Linked DNA regions of Homo sapiens: region 2 is linked to region 1. Evidence: fine-mapped expression QTL. A gene starts in region 1. The other region holds a variant in brackets. All regions are shown on one strand. Distances are from middle to middle.

Region 1 (12,590 bases):
CCAGTAGTCCCAGCTACTCAGGAGGCTGAGGCAGGAGAATGGCGTGAACCCAGGAGGCGGAGCTTGCAGTGAGCCGAGATCGCGCCACTGCACTCCAGCCTGGGTAACAGAGCAAGACTCCATCTCAAAAAAAAAAAAAAAAAAGAGAGATAAATGGCTGAGGGTGAAGAGAATGCTTAACTAAGAGAAAAGATGCAGGGCTGACTTAACAAGTGAGAAGGAAACAAAATTCTTCTGAGCGGCTGCAGAGGGCAGGGCCAGAAACAATGAGTAAAAAGCAGAGGAAAGAGATTTCAACTCAGTAAAAAGACCATCACTCAACAGAGGCCAAAGTATAAGTGCTTCCTTTAGGTAGTGGAGGGCCCCATCACAGTAAGTATGCAAACACAGGCTACAACAACATTGGATAGGAAAGCACCTGGAAGGAGTCAAGCTTCAAACTGCATCGGTTCTGTGTGTGTCCCCACCCCTAACAGGCTAAGAACCTGTGAGTCCATACACCCCTCTTTGCACCCCTTATCCCTAGACATTCCAAAGGAAAAATTTTAGCAGGGAAATACACCCACAGGGGTTGTCATAATTTGCTCCTAGCTGAAAATAGAAAGATGGACTGGAGTCATAAAAAATACAATAGCAAAAGGCTCTCCCTTATTGTGAGAGCCACTAGGCCCAGGATCAAAGTTGGACTCAGATGAAACAATGAGGCCATTTCCTACCCCAGCAAAACTGCAGTCAGGTTATTCCACGGCTCAGCTGCCCTGCCTCTCTCAGATCACAGCACCGCTCTCACGGATGAAAGGGACAGTCTGGTGTTCCTTGAAGCTTATGGCTGGGTACCTTTCATTTGCATTTAATTGAATAGAGCAGGCGACAAAAAGGTGCTCCTACTAGATGACCTTTCAGGGCCTTCCCTGCTTATATTTTGATTTTGTGAATTGAATTAGGTTGAATTGGAGCATGTCAGAAGTAGGAGGGAACTTAAATATCATCTAATCTACTCTCTTTGCATTAGAGAGAAGGAAATTCAGGCACAGAGAGGGGAGATAGCTTGTCCAAGGTTACACAAAAAATCCTAGAAAAATTGGAACTCAACCACTTATCTCCCGACCTCTAGTTTGCATTCTATCTTTCTCCATTTCTCCAAGAGAGTTTTCGGAGAGTTGGTGCTTTCTGAGATAACGCAGGCCCCATATATCCAGCTTCTTTGGCATCACCTATGTGGAGAGCCATTGGCATGGATTTACTTGGTGGAGGCTCCACTTGGAGCCAGGAATTAACTCCCAATGCCTAAATAATTTTTTCACAAAGACTAGGTAATTTGGTTTTCTCTTATCCAAGCCAGGTGATCTGGAAGCAGGAGCAGAATGGAGACCAGAAAGGCATGTGCCCAAATGACCTACATGACACCTGTCAGCATTCTGATTTGTTTGGAGACTGGGTCACAAAACTGTTACATTGAAACAAAAACAAACAAAAATATCTAGAATGAGTACGCTGAAAATAATCTTAAAGATTTCCCAATCCTGTGATTCCCCAAGTACTACTTCCTGGATGTGCCAAGTTGACATAAAAAAAATAAAGGAAATGTTTAATAATATTTCTATGTACGCATACAAATGTATGCACACTTTTCCTGAGATAGGCCATCCTTTATTCTGAGATTAAGTTTTTCCTTCTTTTATAGTTATAACATATCCTTTATTTTATAAAATTATAGTGATGATTAGCTTTCTATCTTGAATTTAATATTCTTACCTGGCAAAATGAAAATTGACAACAAAGTTGACAACATGTGTCGGGTTCTCTCAATTTTTTAGAAATTTTAGAAATCCACAAAGTCTTGAAACTACAGTCTTCCTTTTTACAACTGTGAGACTAGAGGACCCTGGAATAAAACCGTGTTTCCAAGTTCTTACAGTCTGTTACAAACCAATTCCAAAGCTTCAGGAGCCGTCAAGCTACTCTAATCCTAACTCAGCATTAAAATTGCTGTGGGATCCTGGGCAAATTGCTTAATTTTGAGTCTCTACTTTCACATCTAGAAAGTGGACACAATAATCCCTGCCCTGACTTCTTCACAGGTAGCAGAAGGTCAGCATGTGTGAAAGCGCTTTGAATGTAACGAGATAGCATAATCAGCTCTGTGCAAGCAGTTGCAAACCCTTGGTGCTTGCAGGGCAGACAGGAAATAGGAACAAGTGAAGCAGGCCAAGTGTGAGTGAACAGACGGCAGCTACCGCTCAGCCTCAGTACTGAGAATGCAATGAGGCAGGGTGGGGAGTGGGGCAAACTAGCAAGTTCAGCATCTGAAGGGAGGAGAGTGGCTACCCCAGCCAATTTTTGCCATGTTTTAATGTGGGTCCAATGTAACCAGATATTCTCATTTTCAGAAATACTGGAACCTTACATTTTTATGTGCTATGTTTTGATTTATAAACATTGGCCACAAATTCAAACTTCAAAAAATTGTGAGAGACAAACAAAACTTACCATATGGGGATTGCCTGTATGTAAGCCCCTGGTCTGACTCCACACCTATCTTTTTCTGAAAGTCCCATGGGCAGGTCATATTAGAAAGTGCCAAAGCAATCTTTATTGCCTAACAAGAACACAGCTCAAGAAAAAACTGAACAATACAAATTTGCAATGAAGACCAGCCCCCAAGGGTCGATATACACATTTCAGGGTTAGGCAAGGGATAAAGCTGGTTGAAGAAATACTTCATGAACTAGGACAACACTCTCTATAAAAGCTCACCCACTAGTTTAACATTCTCGATCAGTTCTCTGTCCTCTTACCCAATTTTAAACAAAATTTCCTCATCCTAAAAATGGGGCAAATTACACATGTTAAATTATACATATCTAATATATCTACTTATATGAGACTTTGTGTATAATTTGACAAAACAAGGATGGTAAATACGCAGCAAGATTGTTTTGTTCCTGATAATGAGGATGAAGATAACTAACTGCACGGCAGGCATAGTTCAAAAAGCTCTTTAAATTATTAATTAATTTGATCCTCATGGCAACTCAATAAGGTAGATACTCCTATCATCAGCATTTTACAGACATGAAAACTGAGGCACAGAAAGGTTAAGTAACTGCTCAAGGTTACACAGCTGAAAAGTGCCAGCACTGGAGTCCATTGATTGCAGCCTTCTTTCCTGCTGTGCGTCAGAATCCTTGTCAATAGAGTGATCCAAGAGGCTCCTACCCACTGATCAAGTTATCAGGCAGTTAAAATCTGTCTTCCCAACTCCAGCCCAATGTAATGCCTGGCACAGAAGAGATCCTATTACCCTTATTAAATACCGGCTCCCTTCCTCATACTTCATACTTTTTCATAAAGACCAAATCATAGGATGTGTGTAAGGCAGGGTATCTCAACCTCAGCACTGTTGACATTTTGGGCCACAGTTCTTTGTTGTTGGGGGCTGGTCTGTGCATTTTAGGGAGTGTGGCAGTATCCCTGGTCTCTACCCACCAGACAGCAATATCACACTCACCTATCACCCATCCCCCATGACAACCAAAAATGTCTTCAGACATTGTCAAATGTCTCCTGGGGGACAAAACTGTCTCCAGTGGAGAACCACTGGTATAAGGTATGATTAGTCAAACTCCTCCTCCTGTACCCACAGTGATTCACCCGCTTCCCCTGGCTTCTCACAGCTGCCGAGTCCCACCCCATACTGTGAGTTATCTTCACCCCTCACTGTGGAATAACAGGCATCTCCCCAGGAACTGCCTACTCCACTGTTCTAAAACAGTTCCCTGAGAACTTTCCATTTTAAGGGTTTCATTGTTAATTCCTGTAGGAAATGGTTGAGGTTTGGGGGGCAACAAACAAGACAGGAATGGGGAAATAAAAGTTCCAGAGTTCTCATAACAGTAGAAACTTGTTAGACTTTCTATTAAGTTGGTGCAAAAGTAATTGTGCCCTTTGCCATTGAAAGTAATGGAAGAAACAGCAGTTACTTTTGCACCATTCTAATACCTCATAGGGTGGATATCCTAGCCAGAGCCCTTTCAAACCATTATCCAAAGGGTGGTTTGGAAGAGCTCAGCAAAGGCCCAGCATATGAGAAGCACTCAGGTAAATTATAACTATAAACAGTAATGACCTTAAATTATTGTCTCTTCATTCGACAGTCTCGCTATGCCTACCAGGTGCCAGCAATTTTGTAATTGCTTTACTTACATTAACCTACCCCTAATACTGACAAGGGAGGAACTATCACTACATGGGCAGTTTACAGATCAAAAAATTGAGCTTCACTGCAGCTGAAAAACTTGCCAAGCTCAAACTAGACAGTGGGAGAACATGACCCAAGCCTGCCACCCCCCAGCAGACAGAAGGTAGCTTGGACGGCAAGAAGAGGTTCACAACCCAGCTCTGCCATTCACTCTTCAGTGGCCTGGAGCCCATAAGTCAACCTTTCTGGGACCCATGTCCTCATGTATAAAACAAGAGGCCAGATGAGAGTTCGTCTGGCTCTAAAATTTCATAACCCTCATCCATTATTCTCTCTCTTCTTAAACCTTCTTCCAACACAAATGATGATAATTCGTCATTAAATTAGGATTTCAAAAAAAGTTGTTTAAGAAGAAAAAAAGATTGTCTCAAACTGAATGTTTCTTAGTATAAAACTCCATTTTCTCACTAAATACCGGATTAATGCTGTTTAAATTGCATTGCTGGAATGAGTCGGGGAGGGGAGAATTAATGAACTTCTACTAAGCAAAAATGTTCATCAGCTGGAGAAGATCTAAATTAATGAGGAAGAAACACTAAAAAACAGTCATGGCAGGCCAGCTTTCTCTAGAATTATATTATTAACAAAATGCAATGAAACGGCAATTGGTTTGAAGTGGAGAACAAAGAACAATCAAGGAGAAATGCAGTGGCCTGTTTCATTCATAGCATCCCCGAAATGTAGAGTGGGAAGGAAACCCTGGTGAGTTTATCCTTGATAAGTAACCAAAATAATACTAAGAGCAACTGTTAAGGATTTTACGTATATTATCTCATTTAACCCTCACAATCCAGTAGTGTAAGCTCTGTCTCCATTTCACCGCTAAGGCAAGTACATCCAGAGATGTTTACTTCTTGCCCACACAGCACAGCCAGTATTTAAACCCAGATTTAACATCAAATCCTGTTCCCACAACCTCCACACCACATACTGCTTTACTTTGGCTAGCCTCTGGTTGAATATCTCAGCTGCCAGGAGATTTACTACCTCACAAGGTGGCCCAATTCAGCATCTTCCCGAATTGAATATTCCTCCTTGTAACTTTGTCCAAAAGACCTCCAGGGGTGTCCAAGGGAGAAAATACAATTATGGGTTCTTAGTTTCTGATTCTGGTTAGGCCACCAAAACCCCTCCCTCATCCCTCTTTTTCACTTATCACTAGAGACAGAAACTAAAAACCATGGCTTTCAGGCTGCTAAAAGTCTAAAACAAAACAAAACAGAACAACAATAAAAATAAGGCAGGTTGGGCAAGCTTGATAGACTCTGACCCCACCTCCACTCACCCACAGTGTGTTCCATCATCTCCTCCTTCCCTATGGCAGCCCTTCAGAAGTTTAAAGTCATTGATCACCGTGAACATTCTTACCTCCAGGGGAAAAGCCTCTCTCATCCTTTTCCTTGTTCTCCATATGGCAAGGTCTTCAGCTCCTTCCTCTCTTACTCACATTCTTCAGAACACACTCAGGTTTGACAATGAGATTCTTAGAGAACTGAACCCATATTTCCAAGTGTATCCCAGCCAGAAGAGAATGCAGAAGGACCATCTCCTCCCTTATTCTAGGCTTGCTACTTCTGTTAATGCACTCCAAGAGCGGCTCATCTGTATCAGCAGCCGGGTCACATATTGGCTTATGATGGACTTGCTCCCAAATAGCTAGGACCTCTCTAGATATTTTTCACACATGGCCTTCTTAGCTAGTGTGTGATCAGCTGAATTGTTCAACAATTAGTTGGTTCTAAGCAGAATGCAATTAAATAGATCCCACCAGACAAAACCACCAAAGAAAACTCCAGTGTTCTATCCCACTCGAAATCCTTTTTTCTTCATGAAGTGACTGTTATCAGTTGGTCCAACAGGAATAGAACATCCTGTTCACCAATAAAATAATCACTGCTCCTTATAAGCCCTGAGGCCTTTGTTTTATCAATCATTTCCATGTCAGTAACAAAAACTACCATTTTAAGCACTGACTATGAGATACGCTCCAGGCAAGTTGATTACCCTAACACTTAATGATAATCCTACACGTTCAGCATTATAATTTCCTTTTTCCGGATGAAGAAACTGAGCCACAGAGGAGTTTAGTGACCTGCTCAAGGGTTCACAACTGTCTTAACCTTTTTTTTTCCTGTCAGTGCCAGGTGTATTAGTCCGTTTTCACGCTGCTAAGAAAGACATACCCAAGACTGGGTAATTTATGCAGGAAAGAGGTTTAATGGACTCACAGTTCCACATGGCTGGGGAGGCCTCACAATCACGGTGGAAGGTGAGGAGCAAGTTACATCTTACGCTGCTGGCAGAAGGCAAAGAGAGATCTTGTGCAGGAAAACTCCCCCTTATAAAACCATCAGATCTCATGAGACTTATTCACTATCACGAGAACAGCACAGAAAAGACACGCCCCATGATTCAATTACCTCCCACCGGGTCCCTCCCACAACATGTGGGAATTGTGGGAGCTACAATTCCAGATGAGCTTTGGGTGGGGACAGGGCTGAGATTCAAACCCATCTTTGGTACTGGATCCAAAGCTCACACTTTTTCCCCCACAACACAATGTCTTCCAAGTCCAAAACTTCCTGCATTGGCCCATACTGGGCTGACAAGTTTCTATCTACTTACGTAACTTCTTATTTGATTGTCACAAACACCCTAGGATTTGGGGACAGGATAAACTAAAGGACTTGTGCAAGTCCCAAGGGCTGGTCTTCTTTCCGAGTTCTCACTGGTTATTCTCTTCTTGTCCTGCATCCAGGCACAGAGGCCCCTCATTCTGCCTTGTTAATCTATGTTCTTGTTTCTTGCCGAGGATCTCAGAGCTCAGAGGGCCTCTGCAGGTCAGAGGGTTGGAAAGGGCCAAGTTACTCCCCTGCAGAGAAAACCAATCAATCTTATGTCGACCCACCTGCTCTCAAAAAGAGCAGCTGATCAGCCACAGCTGATAAAAAGGAGGTGATTTAAAGGTCAAATGAAGGCTGGATGTCTATCTGCCCTCCTTTTGTGACAAATGTATCTGAGATGTGAGCACAGTGAGATGGTGTTATTTTAAGATGGGTGGCTTATCAGGAAGACTGAATTCACCCAGCCTGTGTCAGCTCCATTTTATAAAATGCAGTGTCCAGGAGTTACAAAAGGTAAAGCAATGGGGTGAAATGAGCACTGGAATAGGAGTGTTTTTCCAGAATACATATCAAGGCTTGGCACCAGCTACTGGTCTTTGGGCCTACTGCTTGAGCCCTTTGAGTCTGATGTGGTTCATCTTTAAAATGAGATTATACAAGCCACCATCATAACAATGCTATGATAAGAAAGCAGAATTGCCTCTTGGATTCCTAGTCTCGTGTTGTACTATACAAGAGATGCAAGAACCCTCAGAAAGCAGCTAGCAAAGCTGGTTATAATTAGTGTAATCCTATAATCTCCTCCAATCCCCTAGCAATCACCAGCACCTCTCTGAAACCTCAGTTCACCAGGATATAGTCTAAAGACCAGCTACCTAACAGTCCATTTTTGAAATGGGAAAACTGAGGCCCAGAGAAGTGAAGTGACTCAAAGCCTTGAAGTGAGTTTATTACAGAATCAAGACTAGAATGCAGGACTCATAGTTCCAGTTTAGTGCACTTTTATTTATTTTTTTCGACAGGGTCTCACTCTGTCACCCAGGCCAAAGCATAGTGGTTGATCACAGCTCACTGCAGCCTCAACCTTCCAGGCTCCAGCGATCCTCCCACCTCAGCTTCCTGAGTAGCTGGGACTACAAGCATGTGCCACCACATCCAGCTAATTTTTTTTTATTTTTTTCTTTGTACAGTCAGGCTCTCATTATGTTGCCCAAGCTACAATTTCTAATATGACATGCTAGTATGGCTTGTTCCTCTTTCCATGTGTAACTATATGTGTATAATATACAATGTTCTACAAAGTAACTTTCAAACTCCTTAGATCCCTAAGACTCCAAAAATGTGACAGTGACAAGAAAAGGCAGGATTCTTACCTCTGCTCCAATCAAGGCAAGTCTGTGTTTTTCCCTAAAATCTGTTAATAGTGTCAGCTAACATTTATTGAGCACTTAATACCAGGTTATATGTGAGTATTTTTAATGTGCATCATCGTACTTAATACTCCCAAGAGACTGTGAGGTAGCTGTTAGTCTTTTTCCCATTATAGAGATGAGGAAACTGAGGGTGAGAAAGGTTAAGTCGCTTGTTCAAAGCCATCCAGCAGGAAGTGGAGCAGGAGTCACACCCAGGTAGACTTACCCACAGGGCCTTTACCAGCAACCCTGTGTTCTTCTACCCAAGTACAATTTCCTTTAAAGAAAGGGACCCACCTCCTACCTATTATTTTTTCTTCTCTTCTTTACATTTTTTTAGTTTGGAAGGCACTACTCTGAGGTTGAGAAGAAGCACCCCAGTTTCTCTAAGTGCCTCACTGTGTGTGTTGGGTAGAGCGTCTTAGTGAATAGGTCAGTCTTCCCCAGAAGTGAAGCAGGGGGACTCACCAAAACTGTGCCCTCCACTAGGCCAACAAAGTGCCCGAGAGACCTTCCACTGGAGCTGCAGCGCTGTCAGTGAGGCCACTGCAAAGGCAATCATCTCAGCCTGAATGTGCTTCCCTCCCCTCGTCCATGTCATCTGCAGGTGCTTCATCTGCAACAGTTCCACCAGGGAGATGAGACAACAGCAGCCTTGGTGTGCACGCAGCTTCTCTGGAGTCATGCTAGTTTACTATCAAGCCCAAATCCAAACCTCAGCTTTGAAACAACCTACTTTCCTTCAATAAATTCCTGCAGCTTTTACTTGTCCCTGATCTTTTCTGCCTTGACCCCAGAAATGCCAGCTACACATGGGGCTGCTGAAACAAAGGCTATATATAAATGCCTGGGCCTTGAGATTCCTATTTCAAAAGTAGACGATACACTCCTGCTTAAAGGTCCCACTCAACTCCCGAAGCTTGCTTGGGACTGAGTGGCTGGGTCCCTTTGGAAAGGACCCGAAAAGGAGATGCCAGATAGACTTGGAAAGGACCCAGAAAGGAGATGCCAGATAGACATCCTCTGACCTAAAGTACCAGTAAGCAGGGACAGCAGATCCCAACGCCTGCTCTAGTAATGCTGCCCAGCTTTCCTAAATGAATCCAGGTATCAGCCAAATCACTCTACAACCACCTAACACAACACAGGCCTGAGAAGAGTAGCATAGGATGTTATTTAATGACAAGGAATTATGTTCATGATTGTCAAGGGGAAAACTCTATACAATAAATAGTACATTTCAGTTTCATATTTTCAACACACATATTTATGCAAATTCAAATAAAATAAATGCACTAAAAGTTTTAATGAGATATTGTTGTATAAACTGTTTCTATTATAGTTTTTCACTTAAAGTAGCATGAACATCTTTCTGGATACACACAAGTGTGTATGTGTGTGTTATGAGTGTGTGTGTGTGTGTGTGTGTGTGCACCTCCTCTGTGTTAGATTACCTGTGATTTTTGTTCTTTCTTATTTCCATGTTTTGGGAAGAAAGCTATTGAATTTGCATGCCTGCCTCCTACTTGTCCTTTGAGGAACAATCCATTCCACCCAAACAGTTGTGGCAGGGCGATGATAGTGCTCTCATCCCCACCAATACTGCCACATGACTCAGGCTAGGCCAGCAGAGCCCTCCCTCCCCTCGTGCACAGTGAATGGTTCAGAGGAGAGCTCATGGCCCAGAGGAGCTTGCGTCTCCTCTAAGACTTACTATCTGAGCATTGTAAGGAAGAGGAGCTTGCTTGTCCTCTGGGATGTTAAGCTAAAAAGACCATAATTAGCCAAGAATTATTGGGAGATTTATTATGCTGCTTCCAGTATATGGAGAAATCCTTTCTTAGAATGAAGGCAAGACAGATCAGAAAACAGAGCCAGGAAGTGAAGAGAGAGCCCTAATGACATTGATCTTCAGGATCCAGCCATGACTAAAGCTGGAATGATCCCTGAAATTCTCAGTGATGTGCCCTAATAGATTTCCTCTTATACTATGTGAATTAAATCTCTGTAAAAGACACAGCACCTGTGTTTTCTAATAAACAACTATGTGTGCATATGTATATATATGTATGATATATCCCTTTTTATGAACAGTAATAATAAATTCAATCCATTCTTCAAGCTTTATGAGTGTATTCCTCAAAAGTCTCTTCTCTGTTTATGGCATCAATTTTGCACTCCATACTGCCATATATTGTTAATTCATTGATTTTTCATATGTCAGAATCTCCCCAAATAAATAAGTTCCTTGAAGAAGGAGTTGTGTCTACCTTACTCCATAACACCCAGCACCATGCATTGTTCAAAGTAGGAATGTGAAAAGCTCCACCCCACCCCCTCACCCCATCAGCAGACATGCATTTAAGTTAGATTTCTTCTCAGCAGGATGAGGTGCCTTACAGCATTCTCACTCCTGTAAGTTCATTAGAAGAGAGCTACCTAGCATTTGGGTCTGTGTTCATGTTCATCTGAGAAGACAAGCAAGATCCTCTCTCTTACAACACTGAGATAGTAAGAGAAGAGGCTCTTACTCCTCTTAGAGGAGACTCAAGCTTGAACTGGGCTACAAGCTCTCCTCTGAACCTTTCACTGTGAATGAGGGGAGGGAGAGTTCTGCTGGCCGGGCCTGAGTCATGTGGCAGTATTGGCGAGGATGAGAGCACTATCATGGCCCTTCCACATGATCAAACCCAGAATCACTGAATGTCAGAGTGGGAAGAAACTTCAGCCATCACCCCGCCCAGTGGTTTTCAAAGTGGTTTTATGAAAGCCTGGGGCTGTGCATGGATGTCAGGAGGCAGACATCCCAAAGTCTGATGAGAGAAGCAAGCGGTTATGCTGAATGGACTAAATCCATGCCTGTTTCCACCAGAGCAGTCTTTATTTAATCCTTTTAAATACTGAGGTTGTTAAAAATGCTAACTCCTGGGTTCTTTCCTAGACATACTGAAACCTATGGTCAGATTTGTGATTCCAGCATTTTCTTTTTAACAAGCTGGCACTAAAGTTTAGGCAGCATGACTCTAGCGTCCCCAGAAATTGAGCCCCTTGACATCCATATCTGGAAATCCCATCCATCCTTACCAGTTCCCTGCCTAGCTAACCTCCACCCTCCTGAGGCACAGTAATTGAATGTCACATGTTGAGCATAATCCTAGAAAATCCTCTGTCATCATGCTGAAGTCCCAACAGCTTGTAGTAATTAGATCTAGACTGGAAAGAGGTACAAAGGAATCATACACTGTTACAATTTGAAGCTTCTGAGGTTCATGCAATGAGGGAGACCAGGATCAACCAAAGAAAGTGTAGCTACAAATTCCAAGTAAGGGGCAGTATGGAGGCCACAATATCCATGGGACATTCCCCATTCATTTCAGTTCCTCTCACCCCTCCTGTCCCCAACCTATGTCCTATTCAGAAAGGACATGCAAGTGTGGTAGCAAACTTCATCTCTTGCAATATTAGATGGTGGATTTTAAAACTCCCCCTCTTTTGGCCTGGCTACATTTTAGCAACTTGATTTAAAAACAAAGAATCCTTCCTATTCTTTCTCCCCACCTCTTGAGTCAGAATCCACAGGAGTGGAATCCTGAAATCTGTACATCTATGAAGATCACATTGATTTTTATGTAGCCAGTCCAGCTCCAATCCACAAACTAAATTTGGTAACCCCCATTCATGTCCACATTTGAATGTTCCTAGGTTCTGTTAAAAAAGAAAAAAAGATTAGGATAGAAGAGGAAATCAAAGATGGCCTGAAAAACAAAAGGCCTGGAAAGAACAAAAGAGTTAGAAAAATCACCATTTTGCAACCACTAATGAAAAGATGGACCTAGACAGGATGATCAGGGCATGCCAAACTCATTAGGTGAAAGGTTGACTGGAGAACTTTGCCATGGTGGGACCAGACTGACATCATGCAGATTAGGAAGACTTGACATTACACACCCAGAATGTGGTAGAAAAGGAAGTACAATACTCACAATATGTTCGAAGTCATCTAGCTGAAAAAATGGAGCCTGAATATAATCATACTCTAAACTTACTGCCACTTTATAGGAAATACTGGGGATAAAAGAACAACTTAAATAACAAGAAGGGATAAAAGAAAAACTTAAATAATAGCAGGAAGAAGTAATCAACTAAATTCATAATCTACAAAAGAACCAATTTCTCTAACAAGCCAATGGTATTAAAAGGTGGGGAGAAGGGACACTATTAAAAAATAAAGGAGACTTAAGAGACATAATTAACCAATACAATGCATGAACCTTGTTTAAATCCTGATTTCAA
Region 2 (12,590 bases), 150 kb after region 1:
ACAGAGAGATACCAATTCATTGCTAAAACATTCCAAAATGAGTTTATTACAAAATAAATGCACAGTCACTGGAGGAAGGGGTTATTTTATTTATACACTCGATCTTAGATTTAGCAACCTTTCATTTTGACTCAGGATTCATTGACTAACTTAAGATGGGCTAGTTTCTGCCAACAGGGCAAGAGTGTGCAATCTCAGAGTCCCACCCAACCTGGCCAAAGCAAATGACTTCTGCATTAATTAGAAGTCATCCCCAAAGGACTTGCCCTTCATGTTTTCCCCATTTTGCCCGCTTAGATACTTGCACAAAAGATGCACCCTTTGTCTTTAAAGTTCCCTAGTTCGATGTTTAGGCAGAAGAGCAAATCCCAGGTTATTATTCTGCAAATAATTTTACATTTCCTTTATTCCAAAAATGTAGCTACCAACTTAAATGTATCATGACACACAAGGGGTAAAAGTTAGATACGAACTTCCAATAGCTAGGGCATGTTTCCTGAAACACTATCGTTCATTAGTACATTATTCAAGAAGTTACCTTAACCCCAAAGAATCTAAGAAGGGCACTGTGTAATTCTTCAGGTCACAATGCCAGCATGACTGTGGAGTCTGTTACAGGTAAGACAATCACAAGTTACAATGCTGTGATTCCAAATACTTTGGGGATGTAGAAAATGTGCTTAGCTGGGCAGCATGAATTAGCTCAGCAACATAGTGCTATGATGGAAGAGGTTCAAGATGATTCATACTTTCACGCCAGACCAGAAGTCACAAGCTCACATAGCGGCAACTCTGACAGCTAGCCAAAGTAGAAGATACTTCTAAAAAGCAGCCTGGGGACATTTTAATTAATTGGCCTGGAAAATCAGGTCAGAATTACAAAGTTCCTCATCCTTATGAAGAAGAAAATGTGATAGTATGTCTTTTATATGGAAATTTCTTTGTATATATGTATAAACTTGGTATGGCCTTAATGCTGCAGTTAAGGATTTGTCTGGCTACCACCTTAAGCAGCGTGTTAAGCAATCGCTTCCTTAATGTAACATTTTTACTTCTTACTGGACACTCAACCTTGAACAACTAATTCCCTTTTGCCCCTTACTCTTCCCCCCTTTTTTTGCATGAAGTCACAAAAGTTATGGCAGTTATTTTTTGGCTTGTAAAAAAAAAAAATCTATTTCTGCAGTTTGAAGATGGAATGTAAAATTTCTGTGAAACATGTATATAAAAGTATATTTATTGAACCATCCATATACACATATCCATGCTGATTCCAATGGAAAAAAATTAAAGTTTTCTGAAATTTTCTGTGGTTAACTCATAATTATTACTATTTAACCAACTTTATATGCAAGAACTTCCAATTACCCCAGGGAGAAACCTATGTATGACCTGGAAAACATCTCACTTTAGACAAGGCTTTATGTCGAGAAATGAGAATTCATTTGTTCATTCAAGAAGTATTTATTGATAGGTGCTAGGCAAGATACAAAGATGACTCAGACACAGATCCTGCCCATAAGGAGCTTACAGTCTAATAGGGGAGAGAGAACACATACATGGAATACATGGTCAGAACTATGTTTCAGTAAGATGAATCTAACATTGTGTATAAAGTAGGCTGGAGTAAGAGGTTAAGTGAAGCTGAGAGACTACTGAAATTACATAGGTGAGGAAGAAAGACGGGAAAGACTTGAGGTAGAACTGACAGGACTTAGCTGAAGACTGGATGTGGGGAATAACAAAAATGGAAGCAGATGACTCAGACTTTAGCATGGATGATGTCATGAACTGAAAGAAGGAACAAGTTTTTGCAAAGAAATGAAAATTTCATATAAAATTCTTCTGCATAGAAACAAACTGTCTGGGATATACTAGGCACAATCAGGAAGAAATGGCTAGTTACCCAGACCAATGGAAGCACCTCAAACTGGCCAGTGACTTCCTCCCCCTTATATATCCATCCCCCCAAATTTCCCAACAATTTTCTCCACTGAAATGGTATAGTGCCTAAAATTTATTAAATTCAAGGTCTATCTCCAGACATGGCCTCCCTTGGGAATGAAAACAGAAATATATTAAGTTATTCAACTCAGTAAGTTTCATCTAAAGACTCTAGTTATGAGTCACTGTACCTTCTGGTGGAATACAGAGATGAACTCCCTAGTCCTTATCTTCTAGGAGCTTACAGTCTAGTAAAGTAGTAAAACAGATAATGTAATTCTAATTCTAGACTGAAGGGGTAAGTTATGAACTACGAGAAAGACAAAGTGCTCTAGAACAGTTTCAGAAATGAAGGTTGGAACAGGACCTCAAACAAGAGGGAAAATGTGGAAAGTAGATGAGAATGGATTTGTTCCTCACTCCAAATTCTGGACAGATCAGCCCCAAAACGGGGCTACTCCCCATTCCTGTTGAAATTTTTTCTTAGGAAAAAATATAGCTCTTGTACTGATCTTTTAAAAAATTACTTACATGGCAAGAGATCAGAGGAAAGGGGGGATTGTAGATCTCAGTGGACCTTCGGGGAAGACAGAAGGCACTTGAAGCCAAGGAATCACAATGCCTGGCTTATCGGGAGGACCCTCAGTGTTTTAGCAAGGCTGGAGCATCACTTCCATGAAGAGTGGGAGAAATAACTCAAAAGTAATATTAAGACCTTGATATAAACATGGCATTGCCAGGCACTAAACAGGGTACACGCCTAAGACCAAATTGCTGCCCCCTAGGAGCTTACAGTTACAACAATACAAGGTGGAAAAAGCACCACAATGTACAGAATGCAAAATGCTGAAGTATTTAGGAGAAATTACAGCTGAGTTTCAGCTATTAACACATTAGGATACCCAATAGCTTTCTGACAGCTAGTAGTAAACCCATCCCTGAGGGGAGCACAAGTTAATGTCCTTAGACAACAAGCCCTGGTAGAGCTGGGCCATTAAAGACAGTTCTAAGAAAATTGAGAAAACAGGGGTATGAAAACTACAGAAGCAACTGGGTGAACATACAAAAAGTGATACCTTCCCTTTTTCTCCTGACAAACTTTAACAGGGCTGCCCTTCCTACAGTGAATCTAAACTGATGATCACCATATTACTTCTAAAAGCAGATTTGGGACTCTACTAACCAATTCTCTCTGATCCTTTGTAAAATGAAGGGGTTGTACAAGTCACTTCCTAGTCCTTTCCAGCACTAACATTCTATGATTCAAAGAATTCTGAGAGTTTCTCTGTTCCTTTTGGTAATAACCAAAATAGAAGAAAAAAATTTAAGTCTGATGCTTCTCACTCAAAAATATAATTATTTTCTATATAAATCACAAATGATCCCTATGCTATCAGCTAAATTTTACTTCCACCCTATCCTTCTTCAAAATCCATGAATTTTTTAAAACCACATGTCCTACAAGCTACCTTAGCATGCACCAAATGATTTTTCAAAAAGTTTTCTCATCTCCTACTCCCTTATACCAACTTCTTGGTATAATGTCATTTAAAGGGCCAAATCAGTGTACATCCAATCTTCATAACAAAATTTTAAAATTTAGGAGAACAACTGACATCAAAGCATGAGGACAGTGAGTAACCGAAGTGGTTTTTGTTGTTTTCTAATTTTTTGTTTTTTAGAGACAGGGTCTCACTCTGTCACCCAGGTTAGAGTGCAGTGGTATGATCATAACTCACTGCAGCCTCCAACTCCTGGGCTCAAGCAATCTCCTGCCTCAGCCTCCTGAGAGACGGAGACTATAGGAATGCGCCACCACATCTGGCTCACTTTTCAATTATCTGTAGAGACAGGGTCTTGCTATGTTGCCCAAGCTGGTCTCAAATTCCTGGCCTCGAGCAATCCTCTGGCCTCAGCCTCCCACAGCACTGGGATTACAGGCATGAGCCACCCCACCCCACCCCAAAGTGATTTTAACTTCAGCAATAGTTAAAACTGTTTCTATCCAGGTTAAACAGGATTTAATCTTCCATCTAATTACTATCAAAAATATAGGCAACCTTCCCCAAAAGTGGGCTTCTGAAAATAAATACTTGGTTCAGTAAATCAATAATTTCTGGTAAACATCCTTAATTTACTTAAAAAAATCCTAAGACACACTGTATGCACACTGTACCTTACAAATCTGGGACACTGGCCACATTTCAAAATACTACACTTAGGAATTTCTGTAATTGGCCAAGTCACATGATTTATTAAAGGAATAGTTGAACAGATTCCCTATATTATTTTCCTCTTACAGGGAATTAAAATAAGCTACTAGGTTCAAGTAGAAACTGTGGAGAGAAGACGAATCCAATGTTTTCAAACAAGTCACATAAACAGAAACTAAAAACCTAATTGCAAGCCAACACATATGCATAATCAAAAACCAAAACTGGTTAAGGGTTTTAGGTAATCTGTAATCATCTTTTTACTCATTTAGGCCTTGATTTGAGACATGAAAGCATGAACAAGGCAGTTTAATTTCAGTGTTGTACTGAGGTGATATCTATCCACTAATAAGAATGTAAATATAAACAAGTTTTATCTCACATGTGCCACCATCTCTCCTTTACTATAGTCTGTTAAGAGTTGACAGGCCCACCTATGGTCCCCAGAATCTCAACATTAAACAAATATAAATCCCAAAAGGCATTACTACCTTAGAACCAGAAATTCTTAGTTATCATCTTGTGCCACACGGCCATTACTTGATCAGCAACTTTAACTTAACCCCTCATCCCACATAAGACATTGCTAATTTTTTTTTGGTACATTAGGCAGTTAGCTAAAACCTGATATTCAAATAAATGCTGATGTTACTTCAAGTTTAAAAACTGCTGAACTAAAAAGGTCAACAATTATCTATATGCAGCATTGCAAAGATTCCTTTAAGTAGCACAAAAAGAAAACTGCAATATAAAAAACATCTTTATAGATTTGACAAATGCAACCATTTAAAAGAAATGTCACTCAGCATAAACAGTGGTCTACAAATCTAAGCTCTTCAAAAAGGTTACCTGTAAGTTCTAAAATGGCCTTCTATAAAGTGCAACATTTTCCATTAAATCGTTAAATTCTACAAGGGTTTTTCAAATAGAGGGATGAAGAAAAGTATCAGAAGGTGACAGTTTATAAGCACAAAACACAAATTCTATAAACTCACCTGGATTATACTATAATAAAAATATTATTATTCACATCCAGATTTGAAGTTTGCATTAAATTATCAAACCTGATGAGAAAAAACTTAAAAACAAACCACCATTATTGTGTTACCATATATAATCTGCAAATCAAAAAAAGACTCACAAAACCCAAGTTTAATTATCTTGTTTGCCCTAAAGGAAATTAAGAACTGTAATGTTAACCTTGTTCTGAATGTATTCCAGACTCAAGTCTCCCTACAGTAGGAAGTTCATTGCGGTCTATGCTACTGAAATGTAATTAGGGGGGCATTATGGTTCTAGAGAAAAAGCATCAGTTTGGGAGGCAAATGTGCTCCTTGCTACATGGATGACTTGGAAGCCTGTCATTTAACTGTTCTGATTCAGTTTCTTCCTCATCTATTGTGCTGAGGACAATATCACCTAACCCGCAGCACAGATGTGAAAATTAACTTTTCTAACCTAAAGTGCAATTCAACTAACACTGTGGTAATGACATACTCAACCAAAGTCAAATTATTATTTTTGGATTATCTATCTCACTGGTCCCTAGCAATATCTGACAAAGTTGAGAACGCTGGAATACACAAAGTAAAACCCAACCTCACCACTAAAACAAAAATACAGTTTAAGGCCCAAGATGTCTAATTACAAATTAACAGGTCTTAAAAAACTAAGACCCACTGAACCAAACAAATCTTATCTAACTAAAATACTCATGAGGCCAGGTGCAATGGTGCACACCTGTAGTTCCGGCTACTTGGAAGGCAGGAGAACTGATGAGGCCAGGAGCTTGAGACCAGCCTGACAACATAGCAAGACCTTGCCTCTATAAAAATAAAAATTTAAAAAAAAAATCTCATGGGTCAAGAGTTCTAAGCTCAGTAGCTAATAACTATACATTGGGCCATTCCTACGGATGAAAATTTTCATTTTAAAATCTGAAAATGTTCAATGTGATGAGCTCCTACTGCTGCCACCTATAGAAAATGTTGCCCTAACTTATAATGATTTTCCAGCAGTGGAAACGTATACATCTCTAAGCTCTCAGGTTTACTCTACATGCAATAATGTACATAATTGTACAAGGATTCTCAACAGTTCTGATCATGATGCTAATCCTATTTCTTAGGTCCAATACTATCATTCAAAACCTCACAATCATCCCAACTCTGATGACAGAAAGCACTGGGGAAGCTTTCTATTTTCTGAGATTGTGCAGTAATTCCCTGCAACAAATTACAAGCAGCATCAGTATGTATTGCTACCACCTCTCCACATTTACACCAACATACACAACACACACATACATTTGGTACAAATAATAAAAAGTGAAATTACTAATTCCTTAGAGTAGATGTTACTGCAATTCTTGAAACAGATTTCCATTTCCTAGTTTGTTATTTATCTGAGGCTGAGTTTCAAAAGAATGAGTCTTCATTCCAGTTTTCCTAATCCCACAGCTCCACCCACCCACAGGAATAGGGACTATCAGTGTTCTCAATGGGGTTGCTTCATTTTTACACAACATTTGGTATCCTTAGACCCCACCCAATAAATGCCAGATGCATGTCTCTCCAACAACCCTTCCAAATTTCACACATTTCCAAATGTCCTCTAGTATGTGATAACACCAAGCTGAGGATTGCTGCATCTAGTTAATGCCCTTAAGTCTCCAAGTAGGAAGAACTTCTGTTTTGAAATGTATAATTTAGTATTCACTCATGAAGGATAATTTCTAGGCTATCCATAATTTATGACCTTGAAGTTACCACAAAGTAATTTTTTTTTCCAAAGTGACTCAGACTAAACTTTTCTTTCCACCCACCACATGCTTAATATAAGCTACAAAAGTATAAGTTGTATTTCTTCCTATTATCAGTGATCTGGGCCAAAAGTGGTTACCAAAGTTACTTTAACCCTACAAAAAAGCCATGTGATTCAGTTACATTAAGTTTATGTAAAGGAGATGCTGCCAATTTTCAAATATTTGAGGAACTGGAACCAAACTGGTAATACCAACTTCACTGTGGTCTTAACCATCACAGCAAACCTAGAGTTTCTCAGTAATGCAAACCAAATATTCCTATGCTATCCTCAAACGACAGTCCTAAAGATGAATACTGTTAAGAAAATAAATACGCTGAATTTTACAACCTGGTTGCCCTTCAATTAGTAATGACAATCACACAAAAGTTTGTTTCACACGTGTAAACAAAACCTTCACCCATCTCACACACAGCACTCAACAAATAACACATATGTGAAACGAGTATTAGTCTATATTGCCAGATTAAATTTTCTTCCAGAAATATTTTAATAAAAATTGGCCATTTCCAAGTAACACCCACTGCATGCCCATCAATAAAAGAGAACCATAACAAAATAGAAAATTTACCATATGGCTATGATTTTAAGAAAAAAAAAAATGCGGACACGAGCACATGAGCAAAGTCCAATATTAAAGTAACATTCCTTCTTACGGGCTATGATTAGGAATCTGATTAGATACCAGAATAAAAATACAAATGCTGAACTATTTAGGTCAAAGAACCTCTATAGAAGCATCTGTCTTCAAAGGCATTCCAGTTTGAGACTCAATTTTAGAATAAGGCATAACAAATATGTTAACAAAAGACATACACAAAGTGATGAAAGAGGGATTCTATAATTCCCCACATACTCTGAACCTAATAAAACAAATCTAGATTTTTTTTTTAAACAATTGCCAAGACTGAAATCAAAGATAAATAGAAGGCACAACAGTTTTGCTCTGGTTGTTATCTGGGTTTTGGGAATTTTTTTGCTTTTTGTTTTTTTACAAATACAAATTAAACATGAAAAAACTACTTCAAAAAAACTAACAGTTCAAGAAAAGCCTATCAGTTGCATTCTAGACATTTAAAACCTATTATCACAATTTAAATTTCAATGGTAAAAACAGTTAGGTTTTAGAATTGTTTTGTGATCCTTTATCAAAAAAAAATTCTATTCCTTTTATTCAGTTTTTAAACATACCAGTGAGAATCAAAATTGTCAAATTTTCCAATGGCAATTTCTCCACACCAGAAGGTAGTCATGACTCTCAAAGAAGAAACAATTTGGGTTTTTCCTGCCTTCAAAATATTATCAAATCCTGTATTTCTTACAGGCTTTTCAAACACGTAGAAAATAAGAAATATTCCAATGAATGAAACATACCAAATGTCAGTAATATGCAAGACATTCCTTTGGGGAAATGGCTGTAAAAAAAAAAAAAAAA[T/AT]CCAGTCTGTATATGCAAAGTAAGCAAGGAAATTCAGTCTTTTTTTTTGCTTCTTTAAAAGTCCGTTATTCCTAAAATATCATTCCACAAAATTGGAAGTGAAAGACTAAAGGTCAGGAAAGGGAAGAGAGGGAGAGGGAGCACACACCATTAACACACAAAAAAAGTAAAATTATACAAACTTAAGCAGTTTATAACAGACTGGGGTCATACTCCAAGATACCAAAGGCTGTCGAAAATTCACCATTCTGTTGGAACCAGGGTTTGTATGGCTGCATGAAGATCCATGAAGATTCACTGCCGTGGCGCAAGCCCCCTTCCCACTCCAAATCCTGGTTTCTGCACCATGCCTCCACGGGGAGGGCCTCTCATTCCACCACCCAGCCCACCTCGAGGGCCTCCAGGTCCCCGAAGGCGATTATCTCGTCGGTCGCCTTCCCTGGCAGCTCGAGTCTTCTTCTCTTCGACATTCAGACGGACCTCACCTCTGAACATGATGGGCTGTAAGAATCAAGGTGACCAGACTTAAGAGTACTGATGAGCTGGCTATCACTATCAAAGATAAAGAAAGCTGTAATAATGAACCAGCAGAGGCTGGGCACGGTGACTCATGCCTGTAATCCCAGCACTTTGGGAGGCCGAGACGGGTGGATTACGAGGTCAGGAGTTCAAGACCAGCCTGACCAACATGGTGAAACCCCGTCTCTACTAAAAAAACACAAAAATTAGCCAGACATGGTGACACACGCCTGTAGTTCCAGCTATTCAAGGAGGCTGAGGCAGGAGAATTGCTTGAACCCAGGAGGCGGAGGTTGCAGTGAGCCAAGATCACGCCATTGTACTCCAGTCTGGGAAAAAGAGCGAGACTCCGACTCAGAAAAAAAAAAGAACCAGCAGATTATAAATCAGCTAAGTTCTCACAGTTCAGTTTTTTGTTTGTTTTTTTAATGAGACAGAGTTTCACTCGTCACCCAGACTGGAGTGCAACTTGAACCCGGGTGGCGGAAGTTGTGGTGAGCCAAGGTCGTGCCACTGCACTCCAGCATGGGCGACAGAGTGAGACTCCGTCCCAATAAAAAATAAAAAATAAAAAAAATTGCCACCTTCTCCATAGATTTGGAGGCTTAGAATAAAACCTCATCATCACCAGTGTGAAAAGATGGTACTGTACATATTTATGCAAAGTACATATACATTTAAAATAAAAACTTCATTAATTTGACATAAACTTTAATTTGCTCTTTAACACCTCCTGAGAATTTTGGATAGTCTTGGCCTTCGTTTCCTCCTAACAGAGCCAAAGTAGTTAAGGGGCTACGAAACATTTCAATATATTCAATTTATGCTCTTCACCAGCAATGTAATTTTCTAATTTCTTAAAATGAGTATCTAAGAGTACTTACTATGTGTCGCGGAAGTGTTCTATTCAAATTTATTTATTTATTTATTTTTTGAGATGGAGTCTCGCTCTGCTGCCCAGGCTGGAGTGCAGTGGCGCGATCTCGGCTCACTGCAAGCTCCGCCTCCCAGATTCACGCCATTCTCCTGCCTCAGTCTCCCGAGTAGCTGGGACTACAGGCGTCCGCCACCACACCCAGCTAATTTTTTGTATTTTTAGTAGAGACGGGGTTTCACCGTGTTAGCCAGGATGGTCTCAATCTCCTGACCTCGTGATCCGCCCGCCTCGGCCTCCCAAAGTGCTGGGATTACAGGCGTGAGCCACTGTGCCCAGCTCTATTCAAATTTATTAGCTCACTTAACCTTTACAACAACCCTCTGATGGTAGATACCTACTTTAAGGACTAGCAAACTAAGGGCCGGGGAGGTTAAGTAACTTGTCCCATGGGTCACAACACTAATGAGTGATGAAAGGAGAATACAAACCAAGGCCTCCAGGGAAAAATAAGCTTTGAAACGGTAAGCTACACTACAGTATGTCATACACCACGGCAATCAGTCTTACATAAGCTATTTCTGCTCACACAAAAAATTAGTGAAGGGAGCATAGTAGACTTCTATCAATACCATGAAATGAAGGGTGGCCACTAGGCCTAATACATGCTGAATGATGGATTTATCTACAAAGCCTACTGGACATTTCTGGGTTCTTCAGTGGCTTTGGTGAGATAAACCACTGTTCTCTCATTTCTCAAACAGTATTTTGCAGGAGATGCTTCACAAAAATAAATGGTCAAATAATTTGAAAGATAATGTATATTTGCATACTCAGGTTGACATGTTATAACCACAACATTAAACTATGCAGTAAGGCCAGGTGCATTGGCTCGCACCTATAATCCCAGCACTTTGGGAGGCCAAGGTCAGCGGATCACCTGAGGTCAGGAGTTCGAGATCAGCCTGGTTAACATGGGGAAGCCCCATGTCTACTAAAAATACAAAAAAATCAGCTGGGCATGGTGGCGGGTGCCTGTAATCCCAGCTACTCAGGAAGTTGAGGCAGGAGAACTGCTTGAACCCAGGATGTGGAGGTTGCAGTGAGCCAAGATCACACCATTGCACTCCAGCCTGGGTGGCAGAGAGAGACACTGTCTCAAAAAAAAAAAAATAAAAAAATAAAAAACTTTGCAGTATGCCCATTAACATTCTGGAGAATATCACTGATCTGCAGTATTTTTATTATATGGTTTAAAGTACACAATTTTAATTCATAGGGACAGAAAGCAGATTAGTGGCTGCCAGGGGTTGGGAGACAGGTACAAGGAATGACTGCTTAGTGAGTAAAGAGCTTATGGCTTTTAGTAAAAAACTTTTGGAATTAAAGGTAATGGTTGCACAATAATGTGTTCTAAATGCAATTAAGTTGTACATTTTTAAATGGTTAATTTTGTTATGTAAATTTCACCTCAATAAAAAAGTATAGCTTAGTAAATTAATATTATTTATACACTTGTTCTTCTCTACTACTACAAAAAGTAGTTTTTTGCTAGAGGAAGGGAAGCTTTCTTTGGGGATCCCACAGTAAGATTTCCATTCTACAAATTCTTCTATTATTAGAACGTACAGAGTAAGAGTACTGTTAGTAAGGATGGTTCCAAGTAGGTTGACTATATAATTTATCTTCCAAATCCAATTTATTAACTTAAAGAAGAAGCTCTTAATAGTTATTCTCTAAAAACAGCAGTATACCAAAACTGTCCTGGGCAAACTGGCTCTTATCTTAGTTAATAGTTAGAAGTAGGTTTGTATTTCATCTCCTGTATACCAAAAGCCACCACCAAGGAAAGGTAGTTACGTAAATCTCAGTGCACTGATAACTATTCATTTTCTCATTCTCATAATTCATGTTTTCAAAAACTAAGTTACTTAAACATAAGGTTTGTTTTCCTAAACCCCCAGGCAAGTCTTTTAATAATGGTTGAAAATAATGAATAAATTACCTGAACATGTTGGAATAAACTGCACTTTACATAAAGACCCAGCTGTAAAGATATATTCTAAAGAACCAAAACCCTTTTTAAAAAAAAAAAAAAAAAATCAAGACAAAAAGCTGCTTACCCTGTTGCTAAGGACTTTCTGAACAGGCTCAGAATCATCAAACACAACAAAACCAAAATTGGGTAATTTCCCACCACTGTTAATGCGCAACTCCACCACGTTTCCATAACCTGCAAGTGAAACACATTCTCAGATAACTACTTAGACCATTATCTTTAAACATTACATGTACACAGTCCAATACAGTAGCCACTAGATGCATGTGACTACTGAGCACTTGAATTATAAATATAGCTAGTCTGAATTGAGATGTGCCTCTCATAAGTGTAAAATTATGGGAGGCACATTTGGATTTCAAAGATTATGAAAAAGTGTAAAATATCTCTCACAATATTCTTACATGTTGAAATGACAATGCCTTAAGTTAAATGTTATTAAAATTATCCAGTTTCTTTTTACCTTTTTTTTTTTAACCATGACTACTAGAAAATTTATAATTACATATGTGGCTCATTTTCTATTGCTACTGGACAGTGCTAGAGAGACACTAGATGAATTTAGTGTTCAAAACTCAATAACCTACTTTGAAAGAAATCTTTAAGCTCTGATTTGTCCACTTCATGAGGCAGGTTGCCAATGAAGAGTTGGTGACTGTCAGGGTGTCTCACCATTCTTCGGGGTTCAATGTCACCTTGCTCACCAGCCTCACGGACTTAAAA

Direction of the effects. Positions count from the first base shown, and alleles are read on the strand shown. Sizes are in standard deviations (SD) of each study's normalised expression.
For the expression in prefrontal cortex of the gene that starts at base 6,546 in region 1, AT is the high allele of the variant in region 2 and T is the other (large effect, 1.5 SD a copy in CommonMind).

What was found.
Region 2: its variant is fine-mapped to the expression of LINC01933 in prefrontal cortex (CommonMind, PIP 0.95).

What each region holds. Positions count from the first base shown.
Region 1 is chr5:151,952,854-151,965,443 of GRCh38, reverse strand. LINC01933 (long intergenic non-protein coding RNA 1933) reads right to left here and starts at 6,546. Exons shown (of 3, transcript NR_109876.1): 1 at 6,490-6,546.
Region 2 is chr5:151,800,211-151,812,800 of GRCh38, reverse strand. G3BP1 (G3BP stress granule assembly factor 1) reads right to left here. Exons shown (of 12, transcript NM_005754.3): 10 at 12,455-12,583; 11 at 11,932-12,041; 12 at 16-8,916. The coding sequence ends at 8,710. Among named protein-coding and RNA genes, the nearest start is that of G3BP1, 35 kb to the right of the region's middle. The variant T/AT (reference allele first, on the strand shown) is at 8,416.